Linked DNA regions of Homo sapiens. The protein of the gene in region 2 interacts with the protein of the main gene of each other region in a pairwise test. Each region holds a gene or a part of one and is shown on either strand. Other genes may lie near its edges.

The links.
Region 1: the proteins of ETV3L (region 2) and NOTO interact in binary tests that used the Homo sapiens proteins (3 or more experiments, as listed by UniProt).

What each region holds. Positions count from the first base shown.
Region 1 is NC_000002.12:73,202,981-73,213,332, forward strand, and holds the end of NOTO (homeobox protein notochord), read left to right. Parts: coding exon 1-68; intron 69-5,419; coding exon 5,420-5,634; intron 5,635-7,790; coding exon 7,791-7,949; 3' UTR 7,950-9,533; downstream 9,534-10,352. UniProt on the Homo sapiens protein: Transcription regulator acting downstream of both FOXA2 and Brachyury (T) during notochord development. Required for node morphogenesis.
Region 2 is NC_000001.11:157,096,809-157,104,753, forward strand, and holds the start of ETV3L (ETS translocation variant 3-like protein), read right to left. Parts: upstream 3,001-7,945; 5' UTR 2,716-3,000; coding exon 2,658-2,715; intron 2,571-2,657; coding exon 2,333-2,570; intron 2,088-2,332; coding exon 1,898-2,087; intron 1,181-1,897; coding exon 1,060-1,180; intron 1-1,059. UniProt on the Homo sapiens protein: Transcriptional regulator.

The DNA.
Region 1 (10,352 bases), on a different chromosome or scaffold from region 2:
AGGTTTTTACCCTGTGCCAGGGCCGCGCGTGGCTCCCGTCTGCGGCCTGCTGGGCTTCGGCGTCACAGGTACTGCGGTCCCGGCGCCCGCACGCGGGGGACTGGGCGGGGGCTGGAGAGCCTAGGTCGCCACTGCCGGCGCCCCAGTGCAGGAGAGGGCACTGAGTGTGAGAATCACACACGGCTGGAGTGGGAAGGGGCTCTGCCACCGTTTACCTTGCAGTTGAAGCCGAGGACCGCGACAGTCTTGCTGAAAAAGACCCCGGCGCGAGGCTTCCCCCGCACGCTGCTGAGGTGGGAGAGGGTGGGTGTGAGGGCGGCGCAGCGCCTGAATGCGGTGGGCAGGAGGCCAGCGCTGGGGCTGCAAGGGGACCCAGCCCTGCTCCCGGTCTCCGCGTCCCTTGACTCCCTCGCACACCCCGGGGTAGCGCTTAGTGACAGAGACGCTTCCCAAAGCGGCTCTCGACCCGAACCAATGGCCCTGTTTTTTTTTTTTACGGGGTAGGGGGAAGTGGACGCTCCGGGCGGTGCTGTTGAGCGAGGAGCTGTTAGGAGCTGGTCAAGGCTCACACCCCACTACCGCCTCCACTGCTCACGTCTGTGAACTTGAGCTACACACTTCGCTCTGAGCCTGCGTGCATGCAATGCTCTTAAGTAGTGCTTAAGGGCCAGGCACTTAAATCTCATGAGAAAGTAATTGTAAGGTTGGGCGCGGTGGCTCACGCCTGTAATTTCAGCACTTTGGAAGACCGAGGCGGGTGGATCACCTGAAGTCAGGAGTTCAAGGCCAGCCTGGCCAACATGGTGAAACCACATCTTTACTTAAAAGACAAAAAATTGGCCGGGCGCGGTGGCTCACGCCTGTAATCCCAGCACTTTGGGAGGCCGAGACGGGCGGATCACGAGGTCAGGAGATCGAGACCATCCTGGCTAACACGGTGAAACCCCGTCTCTACTAAAAATACAAAAATTAGCCGGGCATGGTGGCGCGTGCCTGTAGTCCCAGCTACACAGGAGGCTGAGGCAGGAGAATGGCGTGAACCCGGGAGGCGGAGCTTGCAGTGAGTCGAGATCGCGCCACTGCACTCCAGCCTGGGCGACAGAGCGAAACTCCGTCTCAAAAAAAAAAAAAAAAAAAAAGACAAAAAATTAGGAGGGCGTGGTGGCGCGCGCTTGTAATCCCAGCTACTCAGGAGGCTAAAGCAGGAGAATCACTTGAACCCGGGAGGTTGAGGTTGCATTAAGCCGAGATTGCGCCACTGCACTCTAGCCTGGGCAACAGAGTGAGACTCCGTCTCAAACAAACAAATCAACAAAAAAAAGTAACTATAGAGGGAACTTTGCCTTCTAGCATTAAACATCCACCTACACGTGCTTTTGCCATTTTTGGTTGCCAGGTTCATGTTTCCCCATGTCCCCACGAAGAAAACAGGAGCAAAGTTAGTCCAAGCCTTATCAACCCATACAAAGATAGTTGTAACACAGTCTTGCCGGGTTCCTACTCCGTGGCACCCACCCCAATCCTGCATTTCCTCACCCCATTTCAGCAGTGCATTAACCCTTGGACTCGCAGCCCCATCTAAATTCAATACCACTGGATCTGGGAGCTGTGCCCATCACTCCCAGTCACCTTTCTCTGAGCTCTTCACACACCTGAGGTCTGAATTACAGTTTACTACTTCATGTTACAGTTGCCTCATTTTCAAGTTAGTTGTTTTCTTTTGTTCTGTTTTGTTTTGTTTTGAGACGGAGTCTCACTCTGTCTCCCAGGCTGGAGTGCAGTGGCGCTATCTCTGCTCACTACAACCTCCTCCTTCCGGTCTCAAGTGATTCTCCTGCCTTAGCCTCTGGAGTGGCTGGAATTACAAGCCCCAGCACCATGCCCGGCTAATTTTTTTTATTTTTTTATTTTTTTTTTTTGAGGCGGAGTCTTGCTCTGTCCTTAGGCTGGAGTGCAGTGGTGCAATCTCGGCTCACTGCAAGCTCCGCCTCCCGGGTTCACGCCATTCTCCTGCCTCAGCCTCCCGAGTAGCTGGTACTGCAGGCACATGCCGCCACACCTGGCTAATTTTTTGTATTTTTAGTAGAGACGGGGTTTCACCATGTTAGCCAGGATGGTCTTGATCTCCTGACCTCGTGATGTATTTCTTTTTCTGTGAACTACTGTTCTTGTATTTTGCCCATATGTATAGTTGGTTATTTAAAACAATCTATTTGTAGATGCTCTTTTCTATTGAGGAAATTAGCCCTGGCTGGGTGCAGTGGCTCACCCCTGTAACTCCCTCACTTTGGGAGGCCAAGGCGGGTGGACTACTTCAGCTCAGGAGTTGAGACCAGCCTGGGCAACATGGCAAAACCCCGTCTCTACTAAAAACACAAAAATTAGCTGGGCATGGTGGTGCGCACCTTGGCGGGGGCTGAAGTGGGAGGATTGCTTGTGCCTGGGAGGCAGAGGTTGCAGTGAGCCGAGGTCAAGCCACTGAACTCCAGCCTGGGCAACAGAACAAGACACTGTCTCAAAAAATTAAAAAAGAAATTAGCCCTTTAACTGTAATGAACTACAAATGTTTTTCTGTGTATTGGCCTTTGACTTTGATTATGGCGGTATTCTTTTGTTACATAGAAAAAATTTTAATTTTTATGTTTGATGTGTTTTTACAAATCCTTTTTTTTTTCTTTTTTGAGACAGGTTCTCTGTCACTCATGCTGGAGTGCAGTGGTGCGATCACGGCTCACTGCAGCCTCAATGTTCCAGGCTTAAGCACTCCTCCTTAGCTTCCTGAGTAGCAGGGACCACAGGCATGCGCTACCATACTCAACTAATTTAAAACATTTTTTTTTGTAGAGATGGAATCTCACAATGCCTGTCTCAGCCTCCCGAGTAGCAGGGACCACAGGCATGCGCTACCATACTCGACTAATTTAAAACATTTATTTTGTAGAGATGGAATCTCACAATGTTACCCAGGCTGATCTTGAACTCCTGGGCTCAAGTGATCCTCCTGCCTCAGCCTCCCAAACTGCTGGGATTACAGGCATGAGCCACTGTGCCTGGCCCCACATCTTATATGATACTTGGAAAGAACTTCCTCACTGTGAAGTCATAAAATAACTTCCCCATTTTTTTCTAAATTTTTGTGGGTTTACCTTTTTACATTTAAATATTTCCTCCATTTAGATTTTTTTTAGTGCAAGGTATTGGGTATGGATCCAGCTTAATTTTTCCCAGATCTGGAAATAATCCCTCTTCCCCATTGGATTATCACTTCTGTTTTAATTTTTATAATAACCATTGACTTTCTTCTTGCTCTGTGCCTGGCACAGTGCTAAGCACCCTGTAAGCATCATATGCTTTTGTTTTTGTTGTTGTGGTAGTTGTTGTTGTTGAGACGGGGTCTTACTCTATTGGCAAGGAGTGATCTCGGCTTGGCTCACTACAACCTCTGCCTCCCGAGCTCAAGTGATCCTCCTGCTTCAGTCTCCCAAGCAGCGGGGTCTACAGTTGTGCACCACCACACCTGACTAATTTTTGTATTTTTTGTAGAGATAGGGTTTTACCATGTTGCCCAGGGTGGTCTCAAACTCCTGGGCTCAAGCGATGGGCCCATCTCAGTCTCTCAAAGTGCTGGGATTATAGGCATGAGCCACTGTGCCTAGACAGCACCATGTTAAAATCCTGACATCTCTGGAAGTAGGGATTATTATCACCATTTTACATGTGAGGAAATCAAGGCTCACAGAAGTACATTGTCTTGCCCAAGGTCCTCTGGCTGGTAATTGGTGGCAGAGCTAGGATTCCAACTAGAGCTTTTTTTTTTTTTTTTTTTTTTTTTAAGACAGAGTCTCACTCTATCACCCAGGCTGGAATACAGTGGCACAACCTTGGCTCACTGCAACTTCCGCCTTCCAGGTTCAAGCGATTCTCCTGCCTCAGCCTCCTGAGTAGCTGGGATTACAGGTGCCCACCACCACATCTGGCTAATTTTTGTATTTTTAGTAGAGACGGGGTTTCGCCAAGTTGGCCAGGCTGGTCTTGAACTCCTGACTTCAGGCTATCCGCCTGCCTCAGCCTCCCAAAGTGCTGGGATTACAGGTATAAGCCACCATGCCCGGCCTCAACTAGAGCTCTTAAGGAACACACAGTACAGCCTACTTTCTTCTCCAAAGGTCAATTTCTGATTCTGAAACAAGGCTGACTAGATACACCAGGCTGTATGTCTGATGGGCTTTTCCTGATCTTTTGGTCTACCTTGGCAGGCACAGTGTAAGCCTAGTGGGCCCAGTGGTTGGAGTCCTAAGCAGCCGGGACCCCAGATACACTCCCTTTGTTGGGGCAGTCTGTCTGCCAGCCCTGAGGACTCCCCAAGGCTAGTGGGGGCTGAGTGGCCTTAGCATTATGCTTGCCATTCTTCTGCCTAGAATACTATACCCCCAGATAGCCCAATGGCTCACTCCCTCATCCCCATCAAGATTTGACTTAGGAACTGCTCTTGGTTGATGCATCTCCACTGGCCCACAGCTTGGTCTCATTTATTCCCGTGGCTTAAAATACCATCTATATAAGCTGATGACTCCCAATTTTTTTTTTAATTGAGACAGAGTCTTGCACTGTCACCCAGGATGGAGTAGAGTGGGCTCTATCTTGGCTCACTGCAACCTCTGCTTCCCGGACTCAAGCAGTTCTCCTGCCTCAGCCTCCTGAGTAGCTGGGATTACAGGCATGTGCCACCATGCCTGGCTAATTTTTGTATTTTTAGTAGAGACGGGGTTTCACCATGTTGGCCAGGCTGGTCTTGAACTCCTGATCTCAAGCGATCCGCCCCCTTCAGCCTCCCAAAGTGCTGGAATTACAGGCATGAGCCAACGTGCTCAGTGATGACTCCCAAATTTGTATCCTCAGCTCAACCCTCTCTTCTGACTTCTATCTCTTCTGACCTCATTTCTAAGATGTAAGCTCCATAACGACAGAGATTTTCTGTTTTGTCCTGAAACCATGCATGACACACAGTAGACATTCAAAAAGTATAATATTTGTTCAGTGAATTAAAAGGGTGAACCCCTGGGGGTCTCTTCTCTGCCCATTCCATGGCGTTGCCAGAAGCAGTCAAGGAGAGGAAAGGAAGGCAAAGAGAAGGGAGGTTTGGCAACTCCTCTTAGGGGCCAGAAGTGAAGCCACTTGGCTAGAGAGTAGTGGTGGCAGACAGTCTCATTGCATTGTCCCTTCTTTCCCATTTGTTTGTTTCCTGTTATTTCTGCACAGTCTCTTTCCACTGTCTTCTTGCACTGTTACCTGGCCAAGGGGAAGGCAAGGTAGCAGAGCTGTGTGTGCCTTCTCATTTTGCCCAGATGGGAGTGCAGGGGGCTTCTGGCTAACCTCCCCTGCTGCTGGATAACCTCCCCTGCTGCTGGTTGCTCTTTAGGGTTGGAGCTGGCTCACTGCTCAGGACTCTGGGCCTTCCCAGACTGGGCCCCAACGGAGGACCTACAGGACACTGAGAGACAGCAAAAGAGAGTCCGAACTATGTTTAACTTGGAGCAGCTGGAAGAGTTGGAGAAAGTGTTTGCAAAACAGCACAATCTGGTGGGGAAGAAGAGAGCCCAGCTGGCAGCTCGGCTCAAACTTACAGAGAACCAGGTGGGAGTAGGGACTCCTATTGGGCCTGGGCTGCACCTGGGGACAAACACTACCTCAGCAAGGCCCTAAAAGGAGGGTGGGAGGAAGATATGGGCCCTCTTCCCTGTGCCAGGCTGTTGAGGGGACAGGCCCTGACTTTTTGCACACTCTATATAATGAAAAAAAAAAGTCCCATTTGAAGTCACATAATGTGAACAACTTGGAATGTTAACTTAGATTATTAGTCTAAAAATTGATAATAAAGGATTTCCATGCTAAATAAGGACCTGCCAGTAAAATTAAGTAGATGTGGCCAGGTGCGGTGGCTCACGCCTCTAATCCCAGCACTTTGGGAGGCTGAGGTGGGCAGATCACAAGGTCAGGAGTTCAAGACCAGCCCAGCCAACATAGTGAAACCCTGTCTCTACTAAAAATACAAAAAAATCAGCTGGGTGCCTATAATCCCAGCTACTTAGGAGGCCGATGCAGGAGAATCGCTTGAGCCTGGGAGGCAGAGGTTGCAGTGAGCGGAGATCACGCCACTGCACTCCAGCTTGGGCAACATTTGGAGAGCCCGTCTCAAAAAAAAAAAAAAAAAAGAAGAAGAAGAAAAAAATTAAGTAGATATTAAAGAGTCAATATAATCAATATTTCTTTGACCCCTATATTCCTCTCTAGCTATTATATAATTTCTCTGCTCCTTTTACAGGCAAACTTCTCAACAACTTGCCATGTTCACTTTGTCCGTGTCCTCGCCTCCCACTCACTGCTTCACACATTCCAACATGACTTTTCCCTACCATTCCATCAAAACTTCTCAGCAAGGTCTCTAATAACCTCCATGTTGCCAGAGCCAACAATATGACACTTTCCTTTCTTCAGCTCAGTCCACCACTCAGCAGCTCTTAGTACTGGACAGTCAGCCACCCCATCCCTTATTGAAACATGTTCCTCATAGCCTCCAGACACCATGCTGTCTAGTTTTCCTCCCAGCTCTGCCTCCTTGGCAGGCTACTCTTCCCTTGGGGACCTCGAAATCTCTTCCCAGCTGGTCTCATCTATTCCCGTGGCTTAAAATACCATCTATAAGCCAATGACTCCCAAATTTGTATCCTCAGCACAACCATCTCATCTGACTTATATCTCTAACTACCTTCTTGGTGATTCCACTTAGATGTCTCATGGGCACATATCTCAAACCCAAGTCTAAACCTCAATTCCTGACTTTTTTCTTGCCCAAATATGTTCCTTTCCCATATATGACCCCACCGTCCACCTGGTTACTCAAAAACCCAATCATCCTAGATTCCTCCTTCTCCTCCGCTTCCAACCATCATTGAGCCTTGTCATCTCTACCTCCAAAATACAGCTGGAGTGGCTTCACTTCTCTCTGTCACCCCTAATGTACGCCCCAGCTCTCCCGGGGCCGCTGCAGTAGCCTCCCTCCTGTCTTCCTGCTTCTGCTGCCATCCATGCTTCACACAGCAGCTAGGTGCACAGTGCACTTCAGATGTAAATAGGATTATGTGGGCCCACGTAAAAGCCTCATGGGTGACATTCCTTATCTATGGCCTTCCAGGTCCTGGGTGATCTGGCACCCGCTGACCTCTCCCATTTCCCTCCCTTGACTTTCTCCTCTCACTGTCATCCGTGCTCTCCTCCTTCCTGGTCCTCAAACACTCCAAGCTTGGTTCCATTTCAGAGCCTTCCTACAGGTTGTTCCCTGCCCTGCAGACCTGCTCTTCTCTGTCCCCATCAGGTGGGCCTCTCTCTCTTTGAGCCTCAGCTTTAATGCTGGCTCCTTAGGGAGGCCTCCTCTGCCCAAACCCCTGTTTGTACCCCCTTTTGTGTTTACATAGCTCTTTGTTTGTTTACATGTTTCTTGCCAGTGTTTCTTCACTAGCTCATGAGCTCCACGAGGGCAGGCAGCTTGCCTCTGTTGCTCACCACTGTATCAGCATCACCTAGGATGGTGCTTAGCACATACTGGAAACTCAGTAAATACTCAGATGAATGAATGGTGTCTGGAATTGTAGAAAGGGGTGTTTTGGAGGAGGTACCTCCCTGAGAAGGAAGAGCAAATATTGGCCAGGCAGAGAGGGGTGTTCACTCCAGGAATTAGGAAGCAGTGGGACCTGATGGTCACATTCTGATCTCTGCCCACTCTCCAATTATAGGTGAGAGTCTGGTTCCAGAACCGCAGGGTCAAGTATCAGAAGCAGCAAAAGCTGAGGGCAGCAGTTACATCTGCCGAGGCTGCCTCCCTGGATGAGCCTTCCAGCAGCTCCATCGCCAGTATCCAGAGTGATGATGCCGAGTCAGGAGTGGACGGCTGAAGACTGGGACAGAGGCCCTAGCCAGGCTGCCTGGACTAGTTCCTCCTGGGGGTACCCACTGGAGCTCCCTGCCTCACACCTCAACGAAAAGCCTCCTCAACCAGAAGAATCTGAGCTGTCAAGCAGGGACCCCCTTTTCTATACTGATTCCTGGAAACTGGAATAATGTAATGATTGGAGGCACAGACTCTGGCCTTCAGCTATGTCCTTGGCCAACCTATGGAACTTCCGAGCCTTTTTTCTTTATCTGTATAATGGGTGCATTCATAACTTAGATCACCCAGGGGTGAGAAGATGTCTGTAAAGCAATAATGTGCCATGCACAGTGCAAAGTGTGTGGTTACTGTTAAGGCTTGTAGGCCCCTGAGTAGAGAAGACCAACTGGAAAAAAAAAAGTTTTTTTCTTCTGCTGTCACCCCACAACAATCAACACAGAACACTTCTGTGACCAAACGTATAGGGGTGTACCCCACATTCCAACCTCCAGTTCAGCAAATTCTGACATGATCTACCTGCAGGTAGTGTCTGACCCCACAGATTCAGGGCTCATTCCACATGGCAGCCCCTCCTTTCTTTTTTTTTTGAGACAGACTGCAGTGGCGCGATCTTGGCTCACCGCCACCTCCGCCTCCCGGGTTCAAGCGATTCTCCTGCCTCAGCCTCCCGAGCAGCTGGGACTATAGGCGCATGCCACCATGCCTGGCTAATTTTTATATTTTTAGTAGAGACGGGGTTTCATCATATGGTCAGGCTGGTCTTGAACTGCTGACCTTGTGATCCACCCACCTCGGCCTCCCAAAGTGCTGGGATTACATGTGTGAGCCACCACCCGGCCCAACCCTGCCCTTTTTGTTTTTTATGGAGTCTTAAGGTCTACCAGTCATCAGTCAACTCATTAGCATATGAAAAGACATCACTTCAGAGATTCTAGGGATTTTAGGAGTTCTATGCCAGGAAATCGAGATGAAGACCAAATATATATTTCATAATATCACAGCTCCCCTCACCTGGGGGAGTAATACCTGTACCAGCAATTAATATTTTCCTGGCCTGGCTGTGGAGAAGGAACCTCTTTGAATAAGCATCTGGGCATAGAAGACTCTTCACCATCAGAAGGAGTTGAGAGCAAAGAAGAGAAGGTAGACTGTTTAGCCCACTTCACAAAGTTTCCCAACGTTTTCTTGTTTTGTCTGAACTGTTACCATTCTCAGAAGAAGCTCAGGCCCAGCAGCAAAGACAAGGACTCGCTCTGTCACCCAGACTGGAGTGCAGTGGTGCAATCATAGCTCACGGCAGCCTCAACCTCCTGGGCTCTAGTGATCCTCCCACCTTAGCCTCCTAAGCAGCTGGGACTACAGGCGCGTGACACCACGCCTGGCTAATTTTTAACATTTTTTGTAGAGACAACGTCCACTTGTTGCCCAGGCTGGTCTTGAATTCCAGGCTTCAAGTGGTTCTCCTGCCTTGGCCTCCCAAAGCCCCATCTTTTTATAGAATAATTTGTGTATGCCAAGGCTGGCATTTTGTCATAAACTCTGCTGTGTTTTCACAGGACAGTTATAATTTCCCCCTTTCATGACTCTGACTCATGGCTCCTTTTTCTTCTCAAGAATGTGCTCGATTTCTCTGAAAGAAGCCTGCTGCCAGGATTTGCAGAGCTGATTTCTGTAGCACAGACCATTCAGATTCTAGAATGGCTCTTGGGGACTGAGCTGAGGGATGGAAGGAAGCCTGCCCTGCCACCTGGTGGTGAGTGAGGGCACGGCCCCCAGCTGCTCTCGGGTAGGTTTGCCCCCAAGTACGTGGACTATTCGCTCCCTGACACCGGGCTGCAGGCTTGAGGGGACCCAGGGTCGGTTTCAAGAGCCTCTTCTCTGGCCCTGCCAACTATCTATCTCCCCCAAGTCCGTGGACTATTCGCTCCTTGACACCAGGTTGCAAGCTTGAGGAGAGGCAGGGTCAGTTTCAAGAACCTTTCTCTGTCCCTGCCAACTATCTATCTATCTATAATTATTTGATAGATAATTGTGGCTTGATCACGGCTCATTGCAGTCTAGACCTCCCCAGGTTCAGGTGATCCTCCCACGCATCACCACGCCCGGCAAATTTTTCTATTTTTTGGAGAGACAAGGTCTCACTACGTTGCCCAGTCTGTTCTTGAGCCCGGGAGCTGGAGGCTGCCGTGAGCCGAGATCGCCCCATGCCAGTATGGGCGACAAAGCGAGACCCTGTCTCAAACAAAACTCACAAAATCAGGGGACAAGGAAACAAAACAAGGCTTGATAGTCAGGCCTAGCTGTGGGGACAAATGCCATAGGTCTGTGGTTTGCAGCTTCTTGGGGTCCTGAGAGAACAGGCCCCTCCCCCTTTTCACGACAGTGTGTGCATATGCACACTCACTTC
Region 2 (7,945 bases):
CTTGGGAGGCTGAGGCATGAGAATCGCTTGAACCCAGGAGACGGAGGTTGCAGTGAGCCGAGATTGTGCCATTGCACTCCAGCCTGGGCAGCAAGAGCAAAACGCCATCTCAAAAAATAATAAAAGAAAGTAAAATAAAATGAAAGTCTGACCATGGATCTCCCTCCCAGTCCCTCCTGCCCACAGGAGAAAGTCCTGCTCCCTTAGCATGGCTTGTGCGGCCTCTGTGGCCTGACACCTGTTTGCCTTGCCAGCCCTGTCTCTCATCCGTCCTGCTTGTTCCCACCGCATCGCAAGACTTGCTCTCCAACAGCAAACTACCAGCTGTTCTCCAGATTTGCTACACTTGTTCACAGCTTTTTGCTTTATAAATGCTATTTCTGACTGGGTGTGGTGTCTCACACCTGTAATCCCAGCAGTTTGGGAGGCTGAGGCGGGTGGATCACCTGAGGTCAGGAGTTTGAGACCAGCCTGGCCAACATGGTGAAACCCCGTCTTTACTAAAAATACAAAAATTAGCTGGGCGTGGTGGTGCATGTCTGTAGTCCCAGCTACTCAGGAGGCTGAGGCATGAGAATCACTTGAACCTGGGAGGCAGAGGCTGCAGTGAGCTGAGATCCTGCCACTGTGTTCCAGCCTGGGCAACACTGAGACTCCGTCTCAAAAAAAAAAAAAAAAAAAAGAATAAATAAATGCTATTCCCTCTGCTTAGGCATCTTTTCCCACCTCCTTCACCTGCCCCAGTGTTGTGTCCTCTGGGAAGCCCCAGTTCCTTCTCTGGGCCTGAATGCACAGCACCTAGTGCTTACCTGAATGCCAGCAGCAGTCGCTGGCAGTAATCCCATCTCTGCTCCCCACTAGGTTCTGAGCCTCTTGAGCCTTTCATCTCTGAACCCCCGCACTTAGTAAATAGCTGGTGTTCAATAAATGTTGGTCGAATGAATGAATGAGTTACATAGTATCCCTTGTCTCATGCCCCCTCAGCCATGTACTCAGCCAGGAGGGCCCTCCCTCCTCTGGCTAAGATCCCCCTGGGCCCTCCCAGCCTTGAGCACTCACGGTAGACGCTGCTGCTGCTCCCCTTCTTATCCCCAGAGGTCTCTGGTGGCCCTCGGGGGGTCTGCTGTCCTGTCAGCTGCTCCACCATGGCCTGATGGGCAAATAGCATGCTGTGCAGGAGCTGAGGGGTGAGAAGTAGGTGCGAGGTGTGATGGGCTCTCCTTGGCATGTATCCTCCAGTACAATCTGGTACTGTTAGCCAGTTGCTAAAACAATGAAATACTCTCATACCGATTTTTTTTTTTTTGAGTTGGAGTCTTGCTCTGTCACCCAGGCTGGAGTGCAGTGGCGCCATCCTGGCTCACTGCAACCTCTGCCTCCTGGGTTCAAGCGATTCTCCTGCCTCAGCCTCCCTAGTAGCTGGGATTACAGACATGTGCCACCATGCCCAGCTACTTTTATATTTTTATTGGAGATGGGGTTTTGCCACGTTGTCCAGGCTGGTCTCGAACTCCTGACCTCAAATGATCCGTCCACCTCGTCCTCCCAAAGTGCTGGGATTACAGGTGTGAGCCACCACGCCTGGCCTCTCATACCCATTGTTAAAAGCCCACTGCCACGGCTGCCTACAGTCTCAGATGCCCTGGGCCCTTCCCTCTGATCCACCCCTAAAGGAGTGGCGACTAGGACAGAAGGAGCCACCCTTTCTCACAGGTGGGTCCTGTACCACCTGGATTGTTAATACCCCTGCCTCTGGGGCACTCAGGGTCTAGGATGCAGGAGGAGAAGAAAACTGGAGGCTGATGGGCCCCAGAGGCAAAGAGGAGGGTGGGGAGCCTCCTGGGCAGAGGGGTAGGACCTGGTGGAGCCCTGAGACAGGGGCCACCTCCGCTCTTACCTCACTCTGCACACCCACGGGCACCAGCGCTGGCCGACACAGGGCAGGGGCCCCCAGCAGCAAGTGGGGGGATGGCGGCGCCCGCACTTCCCACAAAGGATAGTTGACTACGATGAGCTTGCTGAAGTTGAACTTGTATGTGAACCTTTTGCCTTTGGTCTTATGCAGGATCCTCTTATTGTAGTAATATCTGGAGAATTCGAAGTTGAGAATAGAGTTGGCCCAGCAGTCAGAGAATAGAGTCAGGGACCCAGTCACATTCTCCTCCCTAGCCGGGCTGACCCTAAGCTGTTCCCCGAGAACCACTAGGCTGCTCACCACAGGCCAGGACACTTCCCAAGCCTTGGAGGGGTGGGAGTCAGCAGGGGTACCAGAAACCACGGCCCTTTTCCTTGAAATCCCCCCTCTTTGGCCATGTCAGCCGCCTCCTCTCACCTGAGGGCCCGGCTCAGCTTGTCATAATTCATCTGTGGTTTGCATTTCCTGCGGCCCCAGAGGCGGGCCACCTCATCTGGATCCTTGATGACAAATTCCCCGTACTCTCCCTGCTGCCAGGCGATGACATGGCGGAACTCTTCCTTCTGCAGCAGCTCCAGGATGAAGTGCCACAGCTGGATCTGCCGGGAGCCTGGGGACGACTCGGCTTTGTAGGCCCAATCAGGGAAGGCCAACCCTGGGTGGAGAGGGGAGAGTGAGGGCTCTGGAGGCCCTGCCCTAGGCCACCGTTGGAGCAGGGGGTAGGCCCGGCCAAGAGGCTCACCTGAGATCCAGTTGCCGGGGTTGGCTGGGATGCCCTCAGCCAAGCAGCTGCAGTGCATGGTCCACTCCGGCGAGATGGGCTGTGTCTGGGCCTTGGGGAAATGGTCACCACTTAAGAGGAAGGGAAGGAAGGAGGCAGAGGGGAGGACAGTGAAAGAGGAAGGAAAAATGGAGGGAAAGAAGGAAGGAAGGGAGAGGGTCAGGAAAGAAAGAGAGAAAAGGGAAGGGACAAGAGGTTGCCAGTGAAGGGGAGAAAAGGGAACCAGAGGCAGCAAGCTTCCCCATACCCAGACAGGGCCCAGCCCCCTCTGGGGACCTCCCCGCTGCCCAGGGCTGACTCGGACTCAGGGCTTCCGGCTGAGCTACTTATATAGATGGAGAGAAGTGCAAAGGGTCCTATATCCTGCCCCTGCTGGGGGATTTAGACAGAGAATGAGATCTCTTCTTAGGGCTTAACAGGATTGGAGTTTTTCCCAAGAGAAGACAAAAGGAAATGTAATTAATCATGGGCTCATTCTAAATCTTGAGTGGGAAGGAGGTGGCATATACACATACCTGTGCCTTTACAGTATTTCTTTTTTTTCTTTCTTTCTTTCTTTTTTTATTTTTTTTGAGACAGAGTCTCACCCTGTCGCCCAGGCTGGAGTGCAATGGGGTGATCTCGGCTCACTGCAACCTCCGCCTCCTAGATTCAAGCAATTCTCCTGCCTCAGCCTCCCGAGTAGCTGGGATTACAGGTGCATGCCATCACGCCCAGCTAATTTTTTTTATTTTTTATTTTTAGTAGAGATGGGGTTTCACCATGTTGGCCAGGCTGGTCTCGAACTCCTGACCTCGTGATCCGCCCACCTCGGCCTCCCAAAGTGCTGGGATTACAAGTGTGAGCCACTGCACCTGGCCGCCTTTACTGTATTTCAAACAATTTGACATTTGAGAAGAGCAGGAATTTGGTTTTTTTGTTTGTTTGTTTGTTTTTTTGAGATGGAGTCTCGCTCTGTCACCCAGGCTGGAGTATAGTGGTGAGATCTCGGCCCACTGCAACCTCTGCCTCCCAGGTTCAAGCGATTCTTCTGCCTCAGCCTCCTGAGTAGATGGGATTACATGTGCCCACCACCATGCCCAGCGTATTTTTGTATTTTTAGTAGAGACAGGGTTTCGCCCTGTTGGCTAGGTTGGTCTCAAACTCCTGACCTCAGGTGATCCGCCTGCCTCCGCCTCCCAAAGTGCTAGGATTACAGGTGTGAGCCACCGTGCCCAGACGAGCAGGAATTTTTATGGGCTTTTTTTTGCCAGTCCCAAGGGCCTGGCGCAAAATAGGTGTTCAATAAATGATTGCTGATCGAATGAATGAATGGTAATGGACTTATAGATAGTGTCTTCTTTGTTGAACATCTGTATCCCGCTCAGAGTGTCAGCTCCGAGATCAGCAACCCTAGCTGTCTTGTTCTCCTCTGCTGGCTCCCCAGATCCCATCGTAGCACAGGACATCGTACTCAAAGGTGCTTTATAGATATTTGTTGAATTGGTGAACCATGGACAGGAACCGGGAATCTTGTGGTTCTCCGCTGAGAAGGGTGGGGAGTTTATGGAATGAGCCCTAGTGAGATAGACTTGCCTGATATAGGAAAAGAGAACAAAATATCTAAGCTCTAAAGCCTTCTGGATGGAACAGAAAGCCTTCTGGATGGTGCAAAAGGCTGGTTTCCACTATAACTAATGGAAGATGAAACAATATGCAAAGGGACTGGGAGAGGCTGCCTTGGGGATGCAGCACATGGGAACTGCTCCTGGTGGGCCAGGGCATTGGGAGGTTCCTGGGCGCTTAGGACTGCCTGTGAACAGGGTTACGTGACCCGGGCCTGGCTCTCCATCTCTGGTGGAGTTAGTGTGCAGTAGTCTCAGTGAGAACTTATTAGGCTGTGAGGTCTGGAGGGCGTGTGAGGATTTGTCTGGAGGGCATGTGAGGATTTGTCTGGAGTTGCTTCCTCACTTTCCAGAGGAGGCTCAGACAGGGAAAATGACTTGACCAAAGACAGGTGGTGAGTTAGCTGCCCTGCCCCCTGACTCCTAATCCATAGCACTTTCTCATATACTGAGTTGCCTTAAGACTTAAAAAAAAAAAAAATCTATGTTGGTGATTTTCAGACTCTAATGCGAATAGGAATGATCTGAAGGTCTCTTTAAAATACGGATTCTGATTCAGTGGGATTTGGGGGACCTAAGACTCTGTACTTCTATTATTTATTTATTTATTTATTTATTTTTTGAGACAGAGTCTCACTCTGTCACCCAGGCTGCAGTGCAGTGGCATGATCTCAGCTCACTGCAACCTCCAGGTACAGGCAATTCTCCCACCTCAGCCTCCCAAGTAGCTAGGACTACAGGCACCCATCACCACGACTGGCTAATTTTTGTATTTTTAGTAGGAATGGGGTTTCATTATGTTGGCCAGGCTGGTCTCAAACTCCTGACCTTAAGTGATCCACCCGCCTTGGCCTCCCAAAATACTGGGATTACAGGCGTGAGCCACCGTGCCCAACCAAGACTCTGCACTTCTTTTTTTTTTTTTTTTTTTTTTTTGAGACAGAGTCTTGCTCTTTTGCCCAGGCGGGAGTGCAGTGGTGCAATCTCAGCTCACTGCAAGCTCCGCCTCCCGGGTTCACGCCATTCTCCTGCCTCAGCATCCCGAGTAGCTGGGACTACAGGCACCCGCCACCACACCCGGCTAATTTTTTGTATTTTTAGTAGAGATGGGGTTTCACTGTGTTAGCCAGGATGGTCTCGATCTCCTGACCTCGTGATCCACCTGCCTCGGCCTCCCAAAGTGCTGGGATTACAGGCGTGAGCCACCGCGCCCAGCTGACTCTGCACTTCTAACAAGCTCCTAGGTGATGCTGCTGCTGCTGGTCTGCAGACCATACTTTGAGCAGTGAGAACCCATAGAACCCATGGGATGCAGCAAAAAGAGGCTGTGGATATCAGAAAGTCAGGGAACCCTAGACACTTCAGGTTGTAAGAATCCTGGCACCTCCCACTCCTGGCACCAAATCATCTGGTCTCTCGCTCTCCGTTTCCCAGGGAATGCTCAGTGCCAGGGATGTAAACTGACAGACAGGCAGTTAGGGGTGGGAGCTTGGAGGCACACATTGTGGCCTGAACTGAGAGTGTCTCTGGAAATTAAGGTGAATAGGGCAGTGAGTAGATCCAAGCTCACCTGGAATCTGCATGAATAGGTTATCCTACTCATCCCTCTGTCTCTAAACTGGCAGCTGACATTCTGGAGTCTTCTCCCCTTTCCTCCCCTGAAGCAGATGCCCCCACTCCTCTTCCAACCTCCTTTCCTTCCCTGTCTACTTGGAAATTCCTCCTCAGTCAAACCTCAATCTGATTAGGATCTCTTCTGCTTCACCTTAGGAAAATGGGCTGGGAAATGGGGCAGGGTGCAGAGGTGAGTTTTGAGAGATTCCAAGGTACGACTGTTCTCTGGAGGAAGCTGATAGAATTTCCTATGGCTCCCCCTGGCACCTGCTGAGTCTGATGGTGTTTTCTGGTCTGAAGGATGTGAATGAAACCTTAGGGTAGATTTAGGATCTGGCAAGAAGAGAATAATAAACCCCACCACTGACCAGACACTCAGTGTGCTCTGCACTACTTTAAGCGATTGAAATAGACATATACTGAAACCTCACAGGAGGTAGCAGAGGGGTTGCATAACTTCCCTAAGGCCATACAGCTCTTAAATAAAAGAGGGGAAAGCAAGACCTTGAGTCAAGATTTATAGTGTTCGGCCATCTAGGTAGGCTCCCAACACCCCCTCCCCGACTCCCCCAAAAGAAAAAAAGCCTCAAAATACAAAACCAAAGTGGCATGAGTAGGCAAGGTCAAGTCTCCAAGCTTCCTGATGCCAGCAGTCTCCTCCCCAGCCTCTCCCGTGTCTGTGAGAGTCCCTGGTGGATCCTTAAGTCTCTGAGGAGCTTGCCAGCTCTGGGTGTGGAAATCCTTGCTGCTGACAAGTCCTGCCAAACGCCTTCCCTCCATCCTTCCTTTTCTACATGAGCCTCGGAGCTGACTGGGGAACACTCAGAAAACACCAGGTCTCAGTTCTGCCTTCATGTCCAAGAGCTGTTCTTGGCACTTAACCTTAACTCCATGCGCTTCACTTTAATCCATGCTCTGGTGGTGATGCTCCCAAGGCTGGGGGAGGTAGTCCCATTCCGTCCCCACCCCGCCCCTATCTTCCAGGCTCCCACTCCTCCCCTCTTGTGCTGTGGGCTAGACACACAAAGCTTGGGGAAGCTCTAACCATGGGTTCTGCACAGCCACTGATTCCCCAAGACCCCCTATGGCAAGATCTTAGAGGAGAATGAGTATTGAAAACCATAAATCAAAAAGGATCATAACCCAATCTCAAATGATCAAAGTGGCTTCTCTTAAGCACTTTGTGTTTCTTGAAGGGTTGTAGCAGCCAGCAATTAGTATTGTCATCACACCATCATTCTGATTACTAATAATATGATTAACCCCCTTGGCCAGTGTAAATGTTCATTACAACACATGTATGTTTTAGGTCATTACTTAATAAAAGCAATACAGATGCTGAAGATAACAGTAGAGAGTAAGCCTTAAGCTAGGGCTTGGAGCCAAAGGAAATGTCCAAAGCACAGGTCACCTTTTGAAGATTTTAGTTAATATGAATTGAGCCCCTATCATGCTCCCAGTATGGGGTTTAACATGTTTTCCTATGTTACTTCATTGACTCTTCACAATAACCCTTCGAGATGGGCATTATCTGTTTTGTATGCTAAGGAAATTGAGGCTCAAGATTAAGAGACTTGCATAATATCCTGGCCAAGTGGTGGAGCTGGATGGGAACAGGTCTGTCTGACTTCAGGCTCCAAGCTGTAATCAGTCAATCAGGGCAGAAAAGTTGAGGATGAAACTTCAGAGCAGAGAGGTGAGGCTGATGGGAGGCCCTGGGCCCTGAAGGAAGCACTTCTAGTCTAAACCCTCCATGTGGGCTCTTTGCTGGAAAAATTATCCACAGAGTCCCCAGAAAGCCAGAGGACAGCCAGCCAAATGGGCAGAGAGCAATACAGAAAGGATGAGAAAGACAAGAACCTACAGAATCTTAAAAAAAAAAAAAAAAAAAGTCAGAGTGTTCAAGACCAATGCCGCATGTATACAAAGTGGAAAGTTGCATCAAAAGTCCCTTTGTTGTTGGGGCCTTTTAAGGGGCTGAAGTGGATTGACTGCATAATCAGATTGATTGGACAAACCAAGTGTTTTCAG